3 linked regions of the Homo sapiens genome follow. The protein of the gene in region 1 purifies or fractionates together with the protein of each later gene. This does not show direct contact. Each region holds a gene or a part of one and is shown in the gene's direction. Other genes may lie near its edges.

Region 1 (3,655 bases):
TGAGAATGCATGTAAGCCTGGGACCTGACATGTAGTAAGGATGCAATACACATTAGCCATCATTGTTAGTAGCGACAATATTGTTATGGTCTCATTAATGGTCCCTTTTACTATTGGTAAATGAGTCCCTAACCTCTCATTATTTACCACACAATTTCTTTAGTTCATATTACTAGGTCCCACTGTTCTCTCTAACCTGTTGATTTCCCCACTTTTCATTATTGAGCAGTCCTTTCAGAGTATCCTAGATGAGATTTTATTCTACTTCAAACTCCGGATCTGTTTTTTTCTGGATCTGAGGACTCTCAAATGAATTACAATGTGAACGATATGAAACAGAAGTCTAGCTATCAATTTGCTCTACTCATTTTTTTCATAGGGGATGGGTAGATGGTTGGAATGGGATTTATAGTGAATTTGATTATAAGAGTAATCAACAGACGTAGCTTTGGTTGCATGTTTATGCTAACAGTTATGGCTTCTAATCTGGCCATTTTTGCCACTGTCCCTCAGATAATAGGGAATAGCTGCTAATTTTGTTATTACTCAAAAGATTTGAGTGTCTTCACTCATTCTGACTCATTTTTTTTTCATGTTCATTCACAAACACACCCAACCTTTATACGTTGAGTAGTTCTTAGGCTTTGGTTCTTTGATGACTAAAGCTAACAAAATGTAGATCTGTTTGCCAAGTTAGGTAAGTGGTTTTATGAAAGTATATTTGGCATTAGGATGAGTTTGCATTTGAGAGAGGAAACAATACTCAAATTAACTACTCTGAGAAATGTTTTTATTCTTAATGTTTCATCAATAATTTGTTAATGTAGATAGATTTAATAGGAAAATTTCTTGCATATTAGGGCCTCATTCTGTGGAAAAGTATTATTCTTTAGTCCAAGAAATTTTAGCCAACCTAAAGTACGGAATTGACTTGTAGCATTCAAGAACCTTCCTAGCCATGGCTAGGGCTTTCCCTTGTGGCAAATCTAAAGCCTCGTGACTTTAGCTGGGTTAGTGTGAATCCTGTAAAGAGAAGATCCCGTTATACCAGGTAATTAATCTTAGATATGTATAGCAAATAGTACTAGATAGTATGGTTGGCATGTTAGAGAATAGCATATTCTGATTAATAGAGCTTGCCAGTTGAGAATTCAACAGCTTCTATAATGAAATTGCATAGGCAGGATGATTCCTTTTCCAGTAGTAGCTGTAGCAGCTAGCGTTCCCATAGCATGTAGTAATGTTTAAGAAACAAAAGGATGTTGAAGTGTAAAGAGCACTGGACTTAGACTCAGAAAACCATGGTTAAGGTAACTGCTCTGCTGTTTACAAACACTGAGATTTTAGGGAAATTCCCTAACTTTTCTCAACTCTCTGTTCAGAAATTTCTCATCTGTTAAAATAGGGATAATGCCTAACCTGTAGGGCCATTGTAAGAATCACATTCTTAATGCATGTGAAAGTGCTTTGAAAATTATAGAATATCTATAAGTATATACAGATTGTTATTAGACATGATTATTTGCCTGCTGTAGCTACTAATCACTTAAAATGTAATAGATTTCAAAGATCGCTTAGCTGAGAAATGTCAGTTTTCAATAGATGTTTTCTTAAAATGGTTAGAATAGAATCTATAATTGATTCAGAAAAACATTGAGCCATTTGTAAAATACTTGTTACAAGAAATAGTTAGAAAGTATATGTTGTAGGTGCCTCTGATTCTCTTAAAGTTCTGATTTACAGAAAACTTTGTGACCAGTCGAGTCCTTAGCTATTTACCCTTAGCTGAGCATTTTTATGTATCAGTTTAAGTAGAAAGATGATAGCTTGATTCTGCTTTAGAAAACACGCCCAGTACTTTAAAATGTAATGAAGTATATCTGTTAAGAAAAAGTCAAGAGATTTAAAATCAATGTAGTTATTTCTCCCAAAAATATTTGAATATAAAATGTATATGAAATGTCCTGCTTTTGATTTTGTTTATCTGTTTTTACTAATTAGTCTGGTTTTCGAGAACCATGGGAGACCTTTATCTTAATTTTAAAGAACTGATTTGTGCAGACAGTGAAGAGTTTCAAACCCCAGAACTGCTTGCCCTTCCCAGTGTGTTGCATAACATTTCTTTTACTGTTTAACATAACCTCATACAAGTTCACCTCAGCAAATTAGTCCCCCCTCAAAGCTCAGACTGCATTTCTTCTTATGTTCCCTTAAAAATTAGAGCAACCCTAGTATTAAAGTAAAAAAGTGGAAAAACATCTCACCTCACTTTTAGAATACATATTTTCTCACATTTTCCTTTAAAATACCTTACTAGCCTGAATGTGTGCTGAAACTTGTTTAAGATGGGATATTAGTTAACCCTGTATTTTGAGTCGTTTTCTTTTTTCGTAAATTTTTCTTCTTTCACTAATTTGAGAAGCTGGATTGATGTGAGCCCATAGAGTTTCCTTATTTTTAGGGGTCTGGATATCATAATCCTAACTCCATTCTACATAATCGAGGTCAGTCTCCTTTGTAGTCTCTAGGAAGTGCAGATGGCTCCAATGATACAACCTGAGAAACTTTAATTGAGGCTTAAAAAAGAAAGGGAAAGTAACAGTTAACAACTTTTTTCACTGTTCCTACCTAATTTGATGCTCACAACCACCCTTTAAAGGTAAGTGGACATAGTCCCCTTCATAGATGAGGGGGTAGACGTTTATTTGTTCCGGAAGAGGTAGGTTTTAACCACCTGGGTGACTGGTAGCCTTTGCTCCTCTTACTACTCTACTGCATGGTTCTCTGAGCCTCTTTAAGTCATTTCGGCCATTCAGGTCTGAAGGAAGCATCTTTGCCAGAAGTGATGCAGATTCAGGAATGGAGGAGAGAGATTATTTTAGGTTTCAGTCAGGGGGCGGAAGCTCCAAGCAACCAGCCACCTTTTGAGATGATTTTGGAGCCTTGGTGCTCCAAGAATGGTGCACTTCATGTTACAATGTTCTAAACTTGCTGGAGGGTTTACAGTGGCATTTTGAATCTGGAGACATTTCGATTGGGAATCTCCAAGTAAGTAGAAGACTTTAATTAGAGGAAACCATTGCAGATTTGAAAGGTAATAGAATCCTTTTAACACTATATATAAAAGGAACTCATTTGTCATAAAATTTAACAAATGTTGTCGTTCTGGCTAAATTTGTAATCTGGGCAAATTACTATTTTTGCTAGTGGATGTGGGTTAGCTTCTAGCTGTTTCCTCCCAACTCTAGAAAATCTTCAGGTGTCTCTTCATGCTCGGTAAGGTTGGGAGTTTAATGTGTACTTAAATTAATAGAAAGTATTCAAGTCGTAAGACTGGCCTTGCTTGTAGCTACACAGTGAAAGGGAGATGATTAGCCAGTAGTTTACACAACTCAAGGTGGGCCTTTTGAATGAAGAAAACAATTACATTGTATGCAGCTTGGTTCTTTAAGAACAACACATTATTCTCCACCACGGAGAAAGAGGATTAAAATGGACATCACAGCAGCTTTTTCGAGCTATATTGTATTTCATTTTACCCAAAATTGCTCAAACATTGAAAAACGAGGAATCAAGAAAAGTGTTGCCAGACATATATATCTGAACATACACACACACACACAGACACCAAATTGTTCAAACATTTAAAAAAAGA
Region 2 (3,655 bases), on another chromosome or scaffold:
GAAGGAGAAAGAGGGAAGGGAAGCTTCCTGGGTATGACACCATTTGCAAGGTCACAACGAACACCCCAACGGAGTGCAGACCTTTTCTTCTCTGTTGGTACTAGATAATTGTTTGGGACATATATATGCTGAGGTTTGGATTGGGGTTCTGCTCGACAAAGCATCTGCTCTCGGACACCCCAGCGTAATTCCTTTCTATGATCTTCACCAGGTAAACGTATTGAGTCCCAGTCCCGTTTGTACTCAAAATACCGGGCTACCCGGTCTGTCTTGCCCCGGTTTCGGCTTAACTGGTCCAGCTTTGGGAGAATAAAGGACTTGGGTCTGCTGGCAACAATCAGGTCTTGTTCGTAAGCTGGAGAGCCCATTCCTTCTCTTTGTAGAGAGCAAATGAGCTGATCTTGAGAAATTCCTTGGTATTCATGTGGTAGGTTAAATTTTTGTGAAACATCAAATGAAGATTCCTTGTCTTCCTGGAACTGTACATTCATCAGCCTTTGTCTTAAGTCCCAGAGATCCTGATCATTTTCTGTACCAGATTCTGATTCACTGATAATCGACTCATCTGTTACTAATACTTCCCCATCTGGCTTTCTGCGCAGCACCTTTCTCTTCATCACTGGCTTTCGGAGTCTTTGGGAGGCCTCAGAGACTGTTTCTGAAGGGACATTACTTTCTACATGTGGGTACTGTAGTTGCACAGGAAGAGCAGGTCGCTTCCCTGGGGCTACTGAAGCTTTACTGTAGGGATCATATTGGATAGATTGGGCTTCTCTCCTGACATCTCCTTCACCCTGCCCTGCACAGATGTGGGTAAAAGCTGTAGCAGCTGCCAACATTCGTTCTTCTGGATCCATATTAGCCCATATTTGTCCATCAGGTAGAAGTTCTTCCATTGCTTCCCCTACACTGTAGGACCTTCTGCAAGAGATAACATTGGTCAGTTTTCTGATAATAAATTCCCAGCTCATAAATTGCTCATTCCCTTATCTCCGTTTTATAGCAGTCAAATGGAGAAAGAATGGCTAAGGCCATCATAAATTCAATACAGGGTAGTATCAGAACAGTTTAGAGGGGCATTAACTCAGTTCTAGGGAATCTATTACCTGCTTTCATTTCCACTCTTACTCCTGCTTTCTACTGTCTTGCCACCTTCAGGTCCTAAAACAGGACAGTATAGTTCTGGCATAAGAAAAGCTTGAAACTACATGATATGGGGCATACTGCTTAATGCACATTATGTAACAGGTACTTAGGGAGTACTTTATGTGCCTGCCATTGTTCTATGTGCTTTACATTTATTAATTCATGTAATTTTCAGCTGTGGGATTATCTGCTTTTCACAGATGAATAACATGAGGCACAGGGAAGTTAAATAACTTGCCCAAGGTTACTCAGCTAGTAAGTAGTGGAGCTGAAATTCTAACTCAAGCAGTTTGGCTTCAGACTGAGTCCCTGCTTTTAACCATAAAAGAGTGATTTGATCTAAAAAAAAAAAATCACAAAAGCAGTGTTGTGTTCTCTCACACACATATAATGTGTATATACGTGCATACATATAATTTCTATGCTTTAATAATTTTTTTTTTTGAGATGGAGTCTTGCTGTCACCTAGGCTGGAGTGCAGTGGCATGATCTCGGCTCATTGCAACCTCCACCTCCTGGGTTCAAGCGATTATCCTGTCTAAGACTCCGGAGTAACTGGACTACTACAGGTGTGGGCCACCACGCCTGGCTAATTTTTGAATTTTTAGTAGAGATGGGGTTTTACCATGTTAGCCAGGCTGGTCTCAAACTCCTGACCTCAGGCAACCCACCCGCCTCGGCCTCCCATTACAGGGGTGAGCCACCGCGCCCAGCTGTCTTGGTAGTTTTAATGCATCTTCAGTTGCCAGCTAAATCTGTTTATTCTAGTGTCTGAAATAACTTGGTATCCACATCAATCAGCCACATACCCAATGCTAGTTTCCTGACTGGATCTGAGATAGGTATCTACTGTCCACTATTTCCTGTGTCCCCACTATTTTTCTTTTTAAACTGAAAAACTAATACATGCACATGATAATTTTAAGCAAGGATTTTCCCTCCCCCACCAAGTTTTACTCTCAAAGGCAATTTCTTATGATTTATCTAGAAATTTTCCATATTCACATGTACATTTTTTTTTAATACCGTAAAGGACAACACTACACAACTCTTCTGAACCTTAAAGATAATCTTGGTTATCCAGCTATATCAGCACAGGCCGACATTCTTCATTTTATGTTGCGCGGAATTCCAATGTATGAATGTATCATAAATTTAGTCAGCCATTCCCTTACTGGTGTAATTTAGGTTTATAGGTTTACTGATGCTAACACGAGTATCTTGCAAGTTTTTATCTATTTGTGCAAGCATATGAATGGATTAAATTTCTAGACATGGGAGAGGTGGGCCAAAAGGTATGTGTATATTCAATTTTGACAGCTGTTGCCAAAATGTTTACCTCCAAAGAAGCTGTACTGACCATACATTAATAGAGCTTGTGTCTCTATTCCCTCTCCAAAGTGGTATACTATCAAACTTTGTCTTTGCAGTCACTTCCTTGAAAAATAGTTCATATCCTTTTGCATTTATCTCAGCTGAGTAAAATTGAGCATTTAAAATTTTTTTTAAAAAATTTTTATAAGCTTTTTTCTTTTTGTTTGAAATGCTTGGTCTTTGCCCATTTGACTCTCAGGTTGCTGGATTTTTTTTTTTTTTACTTTTTCATTAAAACTGATGTATATATTCATGAAATATATATTGAGGAAGGTCGCACTTTACCATCACTTATTTTTTTCTTCTCAGTTTGTCATTTGCCTTTTATTTTTTGCTGGCAGAAGTTTTTCCTTTTAGGTCACATCTTTTTCTAGTGTCTGGGTTTCTAGACTGTTTTGCTTAGAAATGCCTTTCCTACTCCAGAATTTCAGAAAAAAGTCATTCCATGTTTTCTTCTAGTACTTTCAGTTTCATTTTTTACAATTTAAACTTTTAATCTATTATAGATACAGAAACTCATAGTAAAAAACTAAGCTACCTATACTTAGATAACATGGCCTTAGAACAGATGTGGAGATGGTCTTCTCTAACTAAAGTAACCATCAGTCACAGATTGTCTAGGACCATCCCAATTTTAAGGATGTAGTACAGTTGTCCTCAGATTATTGAAATATTACAGGAATTTCTACACTGACATCTACATTACATCAGACTGACTTTTTAAACTATTAGAGGCACAGAAATCTTTTATCAAAATATGCATTTAATTCAGCTTTAGAAAGGGGTCAGAGTGCTTAATTATCTTTTTTTCTCCCATCAAAATTGCTTAAAGTGAGAAAATCTTGTCTCTAGCTTCTACTTCCAATGTGAAATACAACCATCGGTAAGCTTCTTCAGTTAGGCTAGCTTCTATTGCACCACCTAATATTCATCTAATGAATATTAGATGATGGAGCATACAAGTCATTTATTTGAGATAATGGAAAGCAATAGAAACTCAGAGCAGATAAAAGTAGCCCATATAAAGAAATCTTATGACTAGCAAATTGAACAAATACAGTGAGAAATCAAATGGAAATGTTTTAGAGAAAAAAATCTGTAACATCAGTCCTCAATCAATTCAGTGAAGATAGAG
Region 3 (3,432 bases), on another chromosome or scaffold:
GGCCCTACTCTGGGGACCACCTTTCACCCGTTTGTACTTTCTGGGCCACGCCGACCCCTGGGTCGCTTGATGTAAAAGCCAAAAGCTGCTGCCTCCCACTTGGATCATGTCGCCTGGGATTTTCATCCCTCGCACAAGGACTACGGGTTCACACGGTGAACTGGGGGAAGGGAAGTGTTAGGGGGCAAGTCGCGGCACCCCCCCTTCCATAAACTCACGTCCTAACCCCCAGGACCTCAGAAGATGATCTGATTTGGAAATAGGATCATTACAGATGGAATTAGTTCAGATGATCTCATCTTGGAGTAGGGTGGGCCCCAATTCAAGGACTGGGGTCCTTAAAAAAAGGGGGCCTGGGGCAGGGCGCGGTGGCTCACGCCTGTAATCCCAGCACTTTGAGAGGCTGAGGCGGGCGGATCACGAGGTCAGGAGATCGAGACCATCCTGGCTAACACGGTGAAACCCCATCTCTACTGAAAATACAAAAAATTAGCTGGGCATGGTGGCACATGCCTGTAGTCCCAGCTACTCGGGAGGCTGAGGCAGGATAATCACTTGAACCAGGAGGAGGAGGTTGCAGTGAGCCGAGATTGTGCCACTGCACTCCAGCCTGGGTGACAGAGCAAGACTCTGTCTCAAAAAAAGAAGCGGGGGAGTGGGGGATTGAGGCCACGTGCAGTGGCTCACTACTCTAATTCCAGCACTTTGGGAGGCCGAGGCAGGAAGATTGCTTGAACTCAGAAGTTCAAGACCAGTCTGGGCAACATGGTGAGACCCTCGTCTCTACAAAAAAAAAATTATCGTGGTGGGCCGGGCGTGGTGGCTCACACCTGTAATCCCAGCACTTTGGGAGGCTGAGGCGGGCAGATCACAAGGTCAAGAGATCGAGACCATCCTGGCCAACATGGTGAAACCCCGTCTCTACTAAAAATACAAAAATTAGCCGGGCATGGTGTTGCGTGCCTGTAGTCCCAGCTACTTGGGAGGCTGAGGCAGGAGAATCGCTTGAACCTGGGAGGCGCAGGTTGCAGGGAGGCGGAGGTTGCAGTGAGCCGAGATTGCACCACTGCACTTCAGCCTGGTGACAGAGCGAGACTCGTCTCAAAAAAAAAAAAAAAAAAAAAAAAAAAAGTGACTGTGGTGGTGCACACGTATAATCCCAGCTACTTGAGAGATGACGAGGGAAGATCACTTGAGCCCAGGAGTTAAGAGGCTGCAGTGACCGATGATCATGCCACTGCACTCCAGCTTGGGTGAGAGTGGGACTCTGTCTTAGAAAGAAAAAAAAAAGTATTTGGACACAGACATGCATGCAAGGAAGGCCAATGATGCCGGCCACCACCAGGAGCTGGGAGAGGCCCAGGGCAGATCCCCTTCAGCCTTGGAGGGACCTAGCCCTGGCCACACCTTCATCTCAGACTTGCGGCCCAGAGAACTGAATGAGAATAAATGTGCGTGAAGCCCCTCAGTCCACAGGATGTGGTACTGGAAGCCCCCACTCAAGAAGGCTCCAGTGAATGCTGGCACGTTCAGCCAGGATGCCTCCGTGAAGCTGGAGACCTCTGCCCTGGGTCGGGAGGGGAAACTGCTCCAATCCAGGGACTGCCACATGGGAGGGGACGGAGCGTGCCCACCTCCCAGGGGTGAGGGGGGACCCACCTGAGATGTGTGCACATTTTATTTATTTATTGTTTTGAGACAAAGTCTCGCTGTGTCACCCAGGCTGGAGTGCAGTGGTGAAATCTCGGCTCATTGCAGCCCCTTCCTTCCAGGCTCAAGTGATCCTCCCACCTCAGCCCCGGGTAGCTGGGACTACAGGTGTGCACGAGCACACCCGGCTAATCTTTGTATTTTTTGTAGACAGAAGGTCTCACCATGTTGCCCAGGATGGTCTCGAACTCCTGGGCTCAAGCGACCTACCTACCTCGGCCTCACAAAGTGTGCACATTGTAATATCGTGATTTCATATTTGGAGAATCAGCAACCAACCAGCCAACCATGTTGCTTTTATAAGACAGAGCTGAGAAAGCAAAGCTTGGCTGTCGTCTTGGCTCTGGTACCACCCACGAGATGCGGGCGATTCTCAGCTCAGGGCGTGGAGGCGTGGTGTGGGGGAGTCTATTTGCCATTTTTGTTTGTCAGCAGGGGGCAGGGGTTCTCAAAGATTGCAAAATGCTGCTGCAGGTCAGGAAGGTTATTTTGGGTGCCTGTGGGGGAGGTGAAACAAGGTCCCATGACTGTTTTGCAGAACCTTGTCTGTGGAGGGTAGAGGTTGCGGCAGGGGCCTGTGGGCCTTACTTGGTGAGAAGGTAGGTCTAGCTGGCTCCATTCAGTATTTGAGACATTTGGAATTTGTCTGCATTTAAAACCAAGAGATCACACACACCTGTCTGGATTTGGAGTTTCTCTTGAAAACTCGCCAGTCCGGCCGTCTGAGCCTGCACTGACGCCTGGTGAAGCTGTGCAGGGGCCGCCCCTCTCCCTTTCACCACAGTCCTCTCCACTCCCTTTCGCCTCTCCCTGGCCTGCTGCACTCACTGATAGGAAATTCTGACCCCAGACTCGGAGCAGCCTTCCCGTGGTTCGGTTTTTGCTTCCGCGAAAAAGCCAAAGGCCTTGGCCAGAGAGCCAGCTGTTCCTACCTCTACCCCACGCTTCCAAGGCAACCTTCTCCACTTATCTTAGGCCGAGAGACAGCTCTTCAAGAACGTACATGGATCCTGATTTTCTCACGAAGTCCCGATGGAACCCTGTGCTGTTGAGACATCAGTGTGTAAAACTCTCTGTGTCCCTGTTGGGCTGTCCAGACAGTCTGGACTCTTGTAAATTTGAGATTTAATTAAAGGAAACAAACCAAATAGGACTGCGGAACAATTTAAATAAAAGCACACACCAGCCTGGGCGCAGTGGCTCATGTCAGTTAAACCTAGTGCTTTGGGAGGCCGAGGCAGGAGGATCACTTGAGCCAAGGAGTTCAAGACCACCCTGGGCAACATAGCGAGACCCTATCTCTAAAAATATATATATATAAGGCCAAGTGCAGTGGCTCACGCCTGTCATCCCAGCACTTTGGGAGGCTGAGGCAGGCAGATCACCTGAGGTCAGGAGTTCAAGACCAGCCTGGCCAAGATGGTGAGACCCCATCTGTACTAAAAAGTACAAAAATTAGCTGGGCATGGCGGCGGGTGCCTGTAATCCCAGCTACTTGGGAGGCTGAGGCAGGAGAATCACTTGAACCTGGGAGGCGGAGGTTGCAGTGAGATGAGATCGTGCCACTGCATTCCAGCCTGGGCAACAGAGTGAGACTTGGTCTCAGAAACAGAATAAAAAAATAAAAAATTATAGCCAGTCAGGGTGGCATGCACATGTGGTCCCAGCTATCTGGAAGGATGGCTTGGACCCAGGAGGTTGAGGCTGCGGTGAGCCGAGATC

The links.
Region 2: the proteins of MAP2K4 (region 1) and PUS3 purify together in Homo sapiens (affinity purification with mass spectrometry; one large-scale study listed by BioGRID and IntAct). This does not show direct contact.
Region 3: the proteins of MAP2K4 (region 1) and TNFAIP8L1 purify together in Homo sapiens (affinity purification with western blotting, with the first as the bait; one study listed by BioGRID). This does not show direct contact.

The regions. Positions count from the first base shown.
Region 1 is NC_000017.11:12,023,877-12,027,531, forward strand, and holds part of MAP2K4 (dual specificity mitogen-activated protein kinase kinase 4), read left to right. Parts: intron 1-3,655. UniProt on the Homo sapiens protein: Dual specificity protein kinase which acts as an essential component of the MAP kinase signal transduction pathway. Essential component of the stress-activated protein kinase/c-Jun N-terminal kinase (SAP/JNK) signaling pathway.
Region 2 is NC_000011.10:125,896,610-125,900,264, reverse strand, and holds part of PUS3 (tRNA pseudouridine(38/39) synthase), read left to right. Parts: coding exon of another isoform or gene 1-896; exon of another isoform or gene 897-921; intron 922-1,106; exon of another isoform or gene 1,107-1,161; intron 1,162-3,655. Other genes in the region: centriolar and ciliogenesis-associated protein HYLS1, read right to left, coding at 1-896. UniProt on the Homo sapiens protein: Formation of pseudouridine at position 39 in the anticodon stem and loop of transfer RNAs.
Region 3 is NC_000019.10:4,652,667-4,656,098, forward strand, and holds the end of TNFAIP8L1 (tumor necrosis factor alpha-induced protein 8-like protein 1), read left to right. Parts: 3' UTR 1-2,902; downstream 2,903-3,432. UniProt on the Homo sapiens protein: Acts as a negative regulator of mTOR activity.